2 linked regions of the Homo sapiens genome follow. The main gene of each other region encodes a partner of the protein of the gene in region 2 in a complex. Each region holds a gene or a part of one and is shown on either strand. Other genes may lie near its edges.

Region 1 (6,915 bases), on a different chromosome or scaffold from region 2:
CAAATTGTTGACCACCTCTGAGCCTTGAAAAAGTAGGAGGTTACTTTGTTAGAGCAAAATAATAAAATTTAATTTTAAAAAAGAAAACGTAGGAGGTTGGTTTGGATGAGCTAGTCTCTTCCGGTTGAAAAGTCTGACTCGGTGAGCATCCTGACGACTCCATTTCCTTCTGGCTCCCCACCCAGTCTTACACTTGGCTGCCATCAATACCACATGCTCTGAAGGGAGAGTGCTTGCATGGACTTTGCCAAATCCTGTCTGCTCCATCTCAGTTGAATGGAAAAGGAGGGAGGTGGGGCTGGTAGATAGGTGCTTTTGGTGCTAGTATCCACCAGGTTTTGTGTGCATCCCGTAATGAGCCCACTTCCTGAAAACATTTAAAGAAAAAAGATATCAGCTGGAGATGGCAGTGCGCACATGTAATCCCAGCTACTCGGGAGGTTGAGGTGGGAGGATCACTCAAACCTGGGAGTTTGAGGCCAGCCTGGGCAACACAGCAAGACCCTGTCTTTTTTTTAAAAAAAAAAAAAAAAAAAAGGCTGGGTGTGGTGGCTCACGCCTGTAATCCCAGCACTTTGAGAGGCCAAGATGGGTGGGTCACTAGAGGTCAGGAGTTCAAGACCAGCCTGGCCAACATGGCAAAACCCCAGCTCTACTAAAAATACAAAAATTAGCCAGGCGTGGTAGCAGTCGCCTGTAATCCCAGCTACTTGGGAGGCTGAGGCAGGAAATTTGCTTGAACTGGAGAGGAAGAGGTTGTGGTGAGCTGGGATCACGCCACTGCACTACAGCCTGGGTGATGGAATGAGACTCGTCTCAAAAAACAAACAAACAAAAAAAACACTTTGGGAGGTCAGAGCAGGAGGATCGCTTGAGACCAGGACTTCAAGACCAGCCTGGGCAACATAGAGACCCTGTCTCTACAGAAAAATTAAGGAAAGGGAAAAAAAAAAAGCCAAGTGTGGTGGATCATGCCTGTAATCCCAACACTTTGGAAGGCCAAGATGGGAGAATCACTTGAGAGGCCACCCTGGGCCACATAAGGAGACCTCCATCTCTACAAAAAATTTAAAACTTAGCTGGACATGGTGGCACAGGCCTGTAGTCCAAGCCACTCAGGAGGCAGAGGTGGGAGGATCCCTTGAGCCAAGAAGCTCAAGGTTGCAGTAAGCTGTGATCACACCACTGCACTCCAGCCTGGGTGACAGAGACCTTGTCCCCCCTTCCCAAAAAAAAAAAAGGTATCAATGAATGTTCTGCATAGGAAACTTTCATCTCACCTGCTCCTAGGCAAGAATAGCAATCATCTCTGGGCAGAATTCCTTCAATAAATATTTACTGAGTATCTACTGTGTGCCAGAGACTGGGCAGAGGTAAGACCTACCAAGGGCTGAGAATTCCACCCCAAGGAGGGCCCCTCCCTGAGGCCTTAAGAAGGGAGAAGACTGGCTGGGTGCGGTGGCTCATGCCTGTAATCCCAGCACTTTGGGAGGCTGAGACAGGTGGATCACGAGGTCAAGATATCGAGACCATCCTGGCCAACAAGGTGAAACCCCATCTCTGCTAAAAATACAAAAATTAGGCCGGGCGCAGTGGCTCACGCCTGTAATCCCAGCACTTTGGGAGGCCAAGGCGGGTGGATCACGAGGTCAGGAGATCGAGACCATCCTGGCTAACACGGTGAAACCTCGTCTCTATTAAAAATACAAACATTAGCCGGGCGTCGTGGCGGGTGCCTGTAGTCCCAGCTATTCAGGAGGCTGAGGCAGGAGAATGGCGTGAACCTGGGAGGCGGAGCTTCCAGTGAGCTGAGATCGCACCACTGCACTCCAACCCGGGTGACAGAGCGAGACACTGTCTCAGAAAAAAAATACAAAAATTAGCTGGGTGCAGTGGTGCGTGCCTGTAATCCCAGCTACTCGGGAGGCTGAGGCAGGAGAATCACTTGAATCTGAGGCGGAGGTTGTAGTGAGCCGAGATCGCACCACTGTACTCCAGCCTGGCGACAGAGCGAGACTCCATCTCAAAAAGAAAAAAAGGGAGAAGACCAATGAGGGAAGATGGGGTGGCCCATCTGATTCAGCAATCCCCATCTAGCTGATTGCCTGCGAACCTCTAGAGAAGGTCTGGGGCAGTTCCTGGGCAGGGAGGGATGGAGCTTACTTCCATCCTCCCTGTTTCTGGGCTCCTATTTGCTGCTCTGTCCAGCAAGAGGCAGAGAAACCCCTTGGGCACCTAGGGGTAAGATGCACTTCCCAGGCTGCAGAGGCTCCCAAGAGAAGCCAAAGGGCTTTGGTGAGGGTCCTGGGGCCTAGGTACCCAGACTAAGTTAGAAACTCCTGCCTCAGAGGGTGTACATAGGGCAGGGGCTGACCACAAGGACCTGAAACCTCAGAGGTGAGGCCTGCTTCCAATGGGGCTGCAGCTGGCTGGAGTGTGACGGCCACTCTGCCTTCATCCGGGCCCAGGGCTTAAGATAATGGTCCTTGCCTTTGTCAGCCTAAATAACAGAGAGGCTCTCTCAAAGAAAATGATATCTATTTGGGCATAGGGCATTGCAATGGTAGTATCCATGCCATAGTAAACTATATGGGTATTCAGGGAGGTAAAGGAAGACAGGCTTTAAGGGAAAAAATAGGATTACATAATTGTTTTGAAATATTTATCCTTAGGTAGAAGGATTAATAACAAGGGTGACCGCTCAAGGTTGGACAAGCGGTTGCTGGGCAGATGGCCATTCAAAAGTATGTTTTGTGCAAGGTTGTGACGCCCTTTGTGCAAGGTTGTGGTTTTTGCAGAGTCTTTGTGATAGTTTTCATTATCAGGTATTTATGCACGAGAACCCTCTTGTCATGGGTTTCTTGGGCTGTGTCCGGGTTTTTTTGTTCTGTTTTTTAACACAAGTGACTCCATTTAGATTAACAACTTTTGCACTCTCAGGACACTCACAGCCTAAGCCACCTCTACCCCTACGTTGTCAAATGCGATGGGAGTGTGGCTAGACCACCTCCTTCCCTGGTGCTTTGTTTCCTGTAACCACGAGCAATCTATCACACACCCGCTTCCTGATAATCTCCGAGAAGGAATCGGCCGAAGGGCTTCAGCATCCAGAAAGCCCCGAAAGCGCCACAATCAAGGCTCCTCCTCGGGCTCCCCCGTGCTGCCCCGGGCGCGCGCCATCCACCCGGCTGACAAAAAGCACCAGGACATGACCCAGTACCCTTTGATTTCTGTCCAGAGGTGGCGGACCCACCTCGGGGCTGGGATGGAGGGCGGGTCGGGGTCGCTAGGCTTTTTGCAAAAGGGGCAAAGGACTGATGGGGGGCGTAAGGAGCTGACGCCCGCGCTCCAAAGGGGCGTCCTGGTCAAGGAGGATGGGCCGCGCCCCCGCCAGCCGTGGGGACCCTGGAGGTGCTTCTGCCTCGACGTCCTCCAACATGGGTGCTGCCAGACTCTGCTGCGCTCCTGAGTTGCTCCTGGCGGAATTCCAGCCACCCGACATGGGTGTCTCATTTTCGGCTTCTGGGCCATGTCGGGACGGCGGAGGACCCCGGGGGACCGGCGGGAGAGTGGGAAAGGTGGGGCGGGAAAGCCGAGCGAGGCCCTCACTCGCCCATCTGTTGGCGGGGGCGGCAAGTGGGTTTCTTTCTTGCGTTCAGATTTTGCAGTAATTTGCATCTGGACATGGGATACGGGAGGCCAGGCTGCTCCTCGCAGTACACCCACCCACGCCTGCACCTGCCTCAGCGAAGCCGCTCGCCGCTGGTTCCAGCACAGGCTAAAGAGCTTCGGCATCCAGAAAACCAGAAGCGCGCCGCGCACGCGCGCCAAGGAGTTCGGCGACGGCCCCGCCCCTTCGGGGGTAGGGACAGCGCGGCTTCCGCCGGGAGCCCGGAACCGAGCCCAGGAGCCGGGGACGGTGCGCCAGTGCCCCCTCCGCGAGCCCCAACCAGTAGACGGTTCCCTGTCTCCCGCGCCCCAATTTCGATTTTCAAACGCAACTCCTACAGGATTCTGAGACCCCGTCCCATCTCCCATATCCCATTTCCAGCTGCAAATTACTGCAGAATCTGAACCCAGGAAAGAAACCCATTTGCCGACCCCCTCTTCCCTCTCCAGACAGGTGGAGAGCGGGTGAGGGTCTCGCTCGGCTTTCCCCCTGCACCTTTCCCACCCTCCCGCCCGTCCCTGGGGGTCCTCCGTCACCGCGGCCATGGCCCAGAAGCCGAAGGTGGACCCCCACGTCGGGCGGCTGGGATACCTGCAGGCGCTGGTCACGGAATTCCAGGAGACCCAAAGCCAAGGTGAGAGCCACGGTGGGATCAGGTGGCAGGGTCCGCTGTGACCGCCGCCCGGACCTGGCTTCAGTGCCGCTTTCCCGTTGCAGACGCCAAGGAGCAAGTCCTCGCCAACCTCGCCAACTTCGCTTATGACCCCAGCAACTACGAGTATCTGCGGCAGCTGCAGGTCCTGGATTTATTTCTCGATTCGCTGTCGGAGGAGAATGAGACCCTGGTGGAGTTTGCTATTGGTAAGGGCGGGGCCCGTTCCCTAGATGCCTAAATGGGCCAGGGTGAGATAAGTGAATTAGAAGTGAGTCCTTGGGGCCGGGCGTGGTGGCTCACACCTGTAATCCCAGCAGTTTGGGAAGCTAAGGCGGGCGGATCACCTGAGGTCATGAGTTCGAGACCAGCCTGGCCCACATGGCGAAACCCCGTCTCGTACAAAAATTAGCTAGACGTGGTGGAGAGTGCCTGTAATCCCAGCTACTAGTGAGCCTGAGGCAGGAGAAGCTTGAACCCAGGAGGCAAATGTTGCAGTGAGCTGAGATCGTGCCACTGCACCACAGCCTCGGGGACAAGAGTGAGACCCCGTCTCAAAAAAAAAAAAAAAAAAAAAAAAGCCGCACACAGTGGTGTGCACCTGTAGGCCCAGCTACTCTGGAGACTGAAGCAGGAGGTATTGCTTGAGTCTGGGAGGCAGAGGCCGAAGTGAGCTGAGATTGTGCTACTGCACTCCAGCCTGGGCGACAGAGTGAGACCATGTCTCAAAAAAATATGTTTTAAAAAGAGCAGTTTTGTAGCCGGGCGCGGTGGCACACACCTGTAATACCAGCACCAGCACTTTGGGAGGCTGAGGTGGGCGGATCACCTGAGGTCAGGAGTTCAAGATCAGCCTGGCCAACATGGTGAAACCCCATCTCTAACTAAAAATACAAAAATTAGCCGGGCATGGTGGTGGGCGCCTGTAATCCCAGCTACTTGGGAGGCTGAGGCAGGAGAATCGCTTGAACCCGGTAGGCAGAGGTTGTAGTGAGCCAAGATGGCACCACCGCACCCCAGCCTGGGCAACAGTGAGACTCTGTCTCAAAAAAAAAAGCAATTTCAGGCGGGTGAGGTGGCTCACACCTTTAATCTCAGCACTTTGTGAGGCCGAAGCAGGGAGATCACTTGAGTTCCGGAGTTCAAGACCAGCCTGGGCAACATGACAAAACCCCATCTCTGCTTTAAAAAAAAAAAAAAAAAAATTAGTCTGGCGTGGTGTCCCAGCTACTCAGGAGGCTGAGGTGGGAGGATTGCTTAAGCCTGGGAGGTCAAGGCTGCAGTGAGCTGGGATTGGGCCACTGTACTCCAGCCTGGGTGACAAAACGAGAATCTGTCTCAAAAACAAAAATAACTCATATTTAGTGTTTTCATATCAAGAGAAGCAGAGATGGCTTGCAGTCTGTAACTTATGGCTTCTGTAGTTGTTATGATCTTAAGACCTATTGAGTTATTCACTGGGTAGATATTTATTGCGCGTGTACCGTATATGCAAGCTACTGCTCTAAATGCTGGAGTATGGTGAACAGCTTAGGGAAAGGTCTTTGCCCCTCAGGAGCTTACATTCTAGTAGGGGGGACAGGTGGTTAGCAAACAAAAAAGATGATGCTCAGAAGGAAGTAAATGGGGTGATGAGAGACAGCAGTGGAAGGTGGGGGTTACTTCAGTTTTGGCCATCATGAGAAAGGCATTTTAGCCGGGACACAGCATGGGCAAAGGCCTTAAAACAGGAAGGAGCCAGACGGAAGGCTGATGTGGGAGGATCGTTGCAGTGAAGTGGAGAATGGCACAAAAAGAGTTTAGAGAGTTCAGTGGCACCAGAGCTTGCAGGAGTTTAGATCTAGGCCGTGGGAAATAGTTTGAAGCAAACAAAATTTTGAGAACAAACAAAAATTCCTTTTTCAAGCAATGCAGTGCCCACCTGTAGTCCCAGATACTCAAGAGGATCGCTTGAGCCCAGGAATTTGAGGCTGTCGTGTGCTGTGATTGCACGATTGCACCTGTGAATAGCCACTGCACTGCAGCCTGGCCAACACGCGCGTAGTCACCTGGCTGAAGTCTTGTCAGGCTTCTCCACTGTAAAATTACTCTTTCTTTCCCCTCTTTACGTATGATACCCATTGGAAGGAAGTCACTACATAAATTATCTTAAATCTCTCTTTTTATTCTCTTTTTCTTTTTTTTTTTTTTTTTTTTGAGATAGGGTCTCACTCTGTCACTTAGGCTGGAGTGCAGTGGTGTGATCATAGCTCACCATAAACTTGAACTCCTGGGCTCAAGCAGTCTTCCTGCCTTAGCCTCCCGAGTAGCTGTGACTACAGGTGTGCACCACCATGCCCAGCTAATTTTTTTTTTTTTTAATTTTTTGTTGTGACAGGATCTCACTGTGTTGCCCAGACTGGTCTCGAACTCCTGGCCCCAAGAAATAAATCCCTTGTAACCCTAAACAGACCCTCATTTCATAACACTGATTCTCGAAGGCCCCAACCAGGAATGCAAATGTTCCCCCTTCCGGTTTGTCTCATTGCCTCTTTGTGGTTTCTTTATCCCCTTTATTTCCTATAATCCAGAAATTGGGTTGAATGTCTTGATA
Region 2 (7,022 bases):
CTCCCCCAAGGAGGCCTCAGCATAATTCTTCAGGTGCATCTCCTAGGAGAGTCCGTCATGATTCACCAGATCCCTCTCCTCCTAGGCGAGCCCGTCATGGTTCCTCAGATATCTCTTCCCCCAGAAGGGTCCATAACAACTCCCCTGACACATCTAGGAGGACTCTTGGCTCTTCAGACACACAGCAACTCAGAAGGGCCCGTCATGACTCCCCTGATTTGGCTCCTAATGTCACTTATTCCCTGCCCAGAACCAAAAGTGGTAAAGCCCCAGAAAGAGCCTCTAGCAAGACTTCTCCACATTGGAAGGAGTCAGGAGCCTCCCATTTGTCATTCCCAAAGAACAGCAAATATGAGTATGACCCTGACATCTCTCCTCCACGAAAAAAGCAAGCAAAATCCCATTTTGGAGACAAGAAGCAGCTTGATTCCAAAGGTGAGCATATGACTGTCCATGAGAGGGATGTATGTATCCCTGGGAGCTTTCTTTTGGCCGTTTAGTTGATTTATTAGGTATAAGAATGGAATTTCTTTGGGAAAGTTTTGAAAAGTGAGAGGCTGGGTTTGGGAGAGTTGAACAATTATGGTGGCAGGGAGGAAGGTTTTCATATGTCTTTTTATGTGCTCGCTCCACCCCATATAAAAGTACAATTTATTTGTTGCAGAAGCTTTGGAATGTACAGAAGTATATAAAGATAAAATGTGACACAAAATTCTGTCATTCAGAGGCAATTATTGTTAGTGTTGTGGCCAGGGTCATCTTAGTCTTTTTTGGTTTGCATTTTTTATATAGTTGAGCTCTGGCTGTGTAGAACATTTGTATTGCATGTGCAATCTTGCCTGCTGTCCTTTCTTAACGTAGTCTTCCTCAGGCCATAAAACATCTTTATGTTAGTATAATTTTTAATAGTGTTTAATTACAAATTTAACCATTTTCCTAATAATGAATGTTTTTGGTTATTTCTAAGTTTTTTCTTCTGTAATTCTATAATGAACATCCTTGTACATAAACTGTTGTCCCCATTTTGGATTATTTCCTTATCTACTTCTAGATAGATTTCCTCGAAATTCAACTACTTCTATATAAGTTTCCTAGAAAGCTGAGAAGTTGATGTACTGGGTCAGAAGATGTGGGCGTTTTAAAGACTGTCGATACATATTGCAGAATGCCCTTTGGGAGGTGACTTGTGATGCTTATACAGTCGCTAGAACTTAGGCCTGTGCAGTGAAATTTTTTACTCCCTCTTTTGTTCCTAGGAACTATTTTAATTTTAAAATTAAAGTACTTTGTTATCCTTTAGTCCAAGGATATCAGACTATATTCCAGGTATTTCTGACTTTTGCCACACTATGGAGAGCTGACTACAAGTTATTTTGTCTTTCCATGGGTGGGGTTACTGACATAGAGGAGTGTGTGGAGATTTTACACACCAGTTACAGTCAGTGGTCACTTGGGAATAGAATGCCATATTCTACCTGTTGGTCTTAAAAGTTGTTTCTGACTTTGCTCTTCTCCTGTGCCATCCATACTTATGTTTAGGTTAATGATAATTCTTCATAGGAAAACTAAATAAATATTGTACATTAGCTTGGTAAGTTATCTTTTTAGATTCTTCCAAGGGGATTAAAGAACTCTTTGGCCAGGCATGGTGGCTCAAGCCTATAATCCCAGCACTTTGGAGGCCGAGGTGGGCAGATCACCTCAGGTCAGGAGTTCAAGACCAGCCTGGCCAACATAGCGAAACCCCATCTCTACTAAAAACACAAAAATTAGCTGGGCGTGGTGGCACACACCTGTAATTCCAGCTACTTGGGAGGCTGAGGCACAATAATTGCTTGAACCCAGGAGGCGGAGGTTGCAGTGAGCTGAGATCATGCCACTGCACTCCAGCCTGAGACTGTCTCAAAAAAAAAAAAATAATAATAATGTAAGGAATTCTTTAATTTCTAGGTTCTTCTCCCAGCCATAGGAGATTTCATGTAAGTTCTTCACCTAGAGGACATCAGAGTCACACAGATTCTTTGCTCCTATCCAGGTGACTGCCAGAAAGCAACTGATTCAGACCTTTCTTCTCCACGGCATAAACAAAGTCCAGGGCACCAGGATTCTGATTCAGATCTGTCACCTCCACGGAATAGACCTAGACACCGGAGCTCTGATTCTGACCTCTCTCCACCAAGGAGGAGACAGAGGACCAAATCTTCTGATTCTGACCTGTCCCCGCCTCGAAGGAGTCAGCCTCCTGGAAAGAAGGTCAGGATTTTCAGGAGCCATGTCCTTCTTTTCGTGTGACTCTTCTCTCTCAGCTTTATATATGTCCCAGAGAATCAAGCCAAGAAGAAGGATGTAGCTCTGAGAAGTGTAGTAAATCTTAGTTAAAAGGACCTTTGGAGGTCTTTCCTTCTGAAGGCAAACTGGCTATAACCCATCCCAGATGGACTTACAGATACCAGATTTCCCAAGTAGCTTCTGCGTTTATAGCCTCTTAATTCTACAATCTCATTTTAACAGGTCTAGAAAAACTTCCTATTTTCTTAGGAATAAACCGAGGACTGTAATTTGCAGAGTGAAGTTTGGAGCACAAGCATTGTGTCAAACGGATCACATACAGAAATTCTCCTTCTGCCACTTACTGTCTGTGAGATTTGGGCAAGATGCTTAATATCTCTAAACCTCAGTTTCTTTATCTGTAAATTGTGGATAATAGTAGTACCTACTGTGTAAGGTTGTTATGATAATTAAGCCAGTGTAAGTAAAACTCTTAGCACAGTGTCTGGGACAAAGTAAGCATCTAGTGTTAGTGATTTACTAGTATAAATTGGACTATAGGTCTCTGTATCCAGAGCTTAAGGAGAGGCACTTAAAATATGAAACCACTTTTAGAAATCATGTTGTCTGAGAAGTCAATGGTTTGTTTTAAATTCATGATAAGGCTTGATGAATTAGCCAAAAAACCCCAAAATCCATATGAACCTTGAGTAATTATATTGTAAAGAACATTGGTAGTAGTAAAGGAATCTTATTTGTAAGTGGTTAAGAAACAGAATGATAGAGCCTGTGATGTGCATTTTTCTCCCCAGTGCAGACTTATCAGGTAAATCTTGTCTGTAGAAGACTCTGAGAAGACTGGTCCTGGCAGGGTAGACCAGCCTGTTCTTTACCCAGGAAGTGAGATTCTTCTTTTTTAGGGAAAAAAGAGGTCTCTGTTTCAGCTGGACCTCTTGGCATTTTATATATCCATTTAGTTCATGGACAACTTAATATTATTCCAATTTCGTTGCTGAAGGATATCAAGATATACTGTGTGCTTCATTCGTGGGCTGATTTGCTATCTTGATGCTAAGTGGAAATTAGCAAAAAGTTTTCATTTGTTAGATCTTCTGTTATTACCATGAAATATATCCACAATTTAAGGATCTTAGGTTTGCTTGAGTTTGTACTGTAAATGGAATATTTTATCAGTATGGGTCTCTAATGGAAGGCTTAGTGCTTTATACTGGTTTCTGATCAGATGACCTGAGATAGTCTTCATGTGTGCAGTTTATATACTGAAAAGTCAGAAATACAAATGCGTAGCCCTCCATTTAATATATTGTTAGTGTTTCTGCTTATTCTTAAACTTGATGGTTTTGATGATGGTTTTCTTTTATAGTTTTTGAATCCTATGGTAATTATTGAGAATATAAAGCTAGAGTTTTAGGTTTAATTATTGCTGGTCATTAGACACAAATGCAACTAACTGTGTACCCATGGAGCCTACTGTCACATCATCTCATTAATGTTGGATGCTCCCTTTTCCGTTGCATAGGCTGCACACATGTATTCTGGGGCTAAAACTGGGTTGGTGTTAACTGACATACAGCGAGAACAGCAGGAGCTCAAGGAACAGGATCAAGAAACCATGGCATTTGAAGGTAAAAATATGAAAGTGCAGAGACCAATTTAGGCTCATACTGTTTTTTTTTTTTTAATTTAGCTTATTGTACCTGATATTTTGAACTTTTAATTGCTATCAAATTTCAGCTCTGGTTTTATGCATTGTTGTAATTTCTCAGTGAATCCCAGTGCTTCTTTCCTTCTTGAAAAATGCCATTTCGCCCAGGCGCGGTGGCTCATGCTTGTAATCCCAGCACTTTGGTAGGCCGAGGCGGGTGGATCAGCTGAGGTCTGTAGTTCAAGACCAGCCTGGCTAACATGATGAAACCCTGTCTCTACCAAAAATACAAAAAAAAACTAGCCAGGCATGGTGTTGCATGCCTGTAATCCCAGCTACTCAGGAGGCTGAGACAGGAGAATCGCTTGAACCTGGGAGGTGGAGGTTGCAGTGAGCCAAGATCGCGCCACTGCACTCCAACCTGGGCAACAGAGTGAGACTCCATCTCAAAAAAAAAAAAAAAAAAAAAAGGAAAATGCCATTTCTTGGGCCCAGTGCCAATATGCACCAAGATGTTGGTAGGAACTACTTTGGTCTGGCTGCAGAAGTTCTTATCTAGCATTAGAATCCCAAGCGGTTGATTTGATCTCTTAGAATGTTATTTCTGATTTTGATCCTGATATTTGAGTATAATTTTCCTTTGCAGCTGAATTTCAATATGCTGAAACCGTATTTCGAGATAAGTCTGGTCGTAAGAGGAATTTGAAACTCGAACGTTTAGAGCAAAGGAGGAAAGCAGAAAAGGACTCAGAGAGAGATGAGCTGTATGCCCAGTGGGGAAAAGGGTAAGGGAACCACTGAAAGGGTAAACAAGATGGCAGTGACTGGAACAAGTCATTTCTCTGCTCTTCTGATCACTCACTTTCTTATTATGCCTTCAGAGCTGTTATCAGTAATGGGAAATTTGGTGTGCTGAATCTTCTTCCTAGGATATTGATATATTCCACGCTTCTAGTGGGTATTCTGGGAATTTTACCCTGCTCAGTATTTGCCCTAGGGTACTAGAAAGAGGAGATTGTCCAAACTTAGCAGTATGGTCCATCTCGTGTAGAAGTGGAAATGTCATACAGGATAGCAAACACTCTTGGTTCCTTTTTGCCCAGGCTTGCCCAGAGCCGGCAACAGCAACAAAATGTGGAGGATGCAATGAAAGAGATGCAAAAGCCTCTGGCCCGCTATATTGATGACGAAGATCTGGATAGGATGCTAAGAGAACAGGAAAGAGAGGGGGACCCTATGGCCAACTTCATCAAGAAGAATAAGGCCAAGGAGAACAAGAATAAAAAAGGTGGGACTTCTGGGAATCATCAGCTGGAGGTGACTTGTGAAGAGAGAATCATTAGGATGCTGATACATAGCTATATGCAAAGAAGGATTTCCCAAATAATTTAAATTCATTGTATTTGTGAGTTTAGATTCAACTCAATTGGTCTTTCTATATAAAAATTTTTCCAGGCCAGGCGCAGTGGCTCATGTTTGTAATCCTAGCACTTCGGGAGGCCGAGGTGGGTGGATCACCTTAGAGTTCGAGACCAGCCTGGCCAACATGGTGAAACCCCATCTCTACTAAAAATACAAAAAAAAAAAAAAAATAGCCGGTCATGGTGGTGCACGCCTGTAATCCCGGCTAGTTGGGAGGCTAAGGCACGAGAATTGCTTGAACCCAGGAGGCAGAGGTTGCAGTGAGCTGAGATCGTGCCACTGTACTCCAGCCTGGGCAACAGAGTGAGACTCTACTAAAAAAAAAGGAAAATTCCACATTGCCATCCAGCTCTGAATTAAACTATGTCATTAACTGAATACTTTTTTCTTACTCCTCTCATTAGTGAGACCTCGCTACAGTGGTCCAGCACCTCCTCCCAACAGATTTAATATCTGGCCTGGATATCGCTGGGACGGAGTGGACAGGTAAGCCTGGGTATTTCTTACATTTTCTACCTGACTGTAACCTTCCCTAACCACTCGTAAGTTGCTCCACACTTTATTTCATTCTCTGCTTTAATCACAAGGTGAAAAATATGCACTTTGCTTGCTTCTTTTTCTGAGGTCCACAAATCCTATTTCTCATGCTTGGAACACTCCTCCTTCTGTTTCCTTTTCATAATACTTTTTAAAGCTCTGGACAAACACCTCAGGTGGTTCAGATAAGACACCCTTTGTTTTGGACATTGGTTACTTTTAATGATATTTTGTAAGGTTTAGAGGGGTTGAGTGATGAGTTGTAGTCTGGAGCCTTCTACCTGATATATCTTTAAAATGTAGCCTCTGAATCTTTATTCACTTTATGGTTTTAGGAGGCAGTCACTTTTAATGTCTTCCAGTCCTCTACCCCACCTCATCTGTCTACCTACCAACATCTGTACCCACGTACTCTAACTTCCTGTTATGATGGATGAATATTTGCTTCCATCCAAAGTCAGTTTGTATACTCACATATTAGATCCCATCTCCTCTTGCCTACTAAAGGACATTGTTTTAGTATCTAGCACAATAATTCTTAAACTTTTTAATCTCAGGACCCTTTTACAGTCTTTTTTTTTTTGAGATGGAGCCTCGCCCTGTCGCCCAGGCTGGAGTGCAGTGGCGCAGTCTCGGCTCACTGCAACCTCTGCCTCCTGGGTTCAAGCGATTCTCCTGCCCTAGCCTCCCGAGTAGCTGGGATTACCGGCGCCCGCTGCCACACCCAGCTAATTTTTTGTATCTTTAATAGAGACGGAGTTTCACCATGTTGCCAGGCTGGTCTCAAACTCCTGACCTCAGGTGACCCGCCCACTTCAGCCTCCCAAAGTGCTGGTATTACAGGCTTACAGGATTACAGGATTACAGGTGAGCCACCATGCCCAACCACTCTTATTTTTTTTTGAGGCAGAGTCTTGCTCTGTTGCTCAGGCTGGAGTGCAGTGGTGCAATCTCCACTTCCCGGGTTCAAGCAATTCTCATGCTTCAGTGGCCTGAGTAGCTGGGATTACAGGCATGTGTCACCATATCCAGCTAATTTTTGCATTTTTAGTAGAGACGAGGTTTTGCCACATTGACCAGGCTGGTCTTGAATTCTTGGGCTCATATGATTGTCTGCCTCGATTTCCCA

Evidence for each region. Proteins that work in one complex are often made in the same cells at the same time.
Region 1: BUD13 (region 2) and ARMC7 share a complex: the UniProt entries of both Homo sapiens proteins name them as parts of the minor spliceosome.

What each region holds. Positions count from the first base shown.
Region 1 is NC_000017.11:75,106,076-75,112,990, forward strand, and holds the start of ARMC7 (armadillo repeat-containing protein 7), read left to right. Parts: upstream 1-4,074; 5' UTR 4,075-4,213; coding exon 4,214-4,304; intron 4,305-4,387; coding exon 4,388-4,531; intron 4,532-6,915. Other genes in the region: SLC16A5 (monocarboxylate transporter 6), read left to right, coding at 3,660-4,074. UniProt on the Homo sapiens protein: As a component of the minor spliceosome, involved in the splicing of U12-type introns in pre-mRNAs.
Region 2 is NC_000011.10:116,755,966-116,762,987, reverse strand, and holds part of BUD13 (BUD13 homolog), read left to right. Parts: coding exon 1-435; intron 436-2,035; coding exon 2,036-2,253; intron 2,254-3,808; coding exon 3,809-3,914; intron 3,915-4,580; coding exon 4,581-4,719; intron 4,720-5,037; coding exon 5,038-5,222; intron 5,223-5,760; coding exon 5,761-5,842; intron 5,843-7,022. UniProt on the Homo sapiens protein: Involved in pre-mRNA splicing as component of the activated spliceosome. As a component of the minor spliceosome, involved in the splicing of U12-type introns in pre-mRNAs.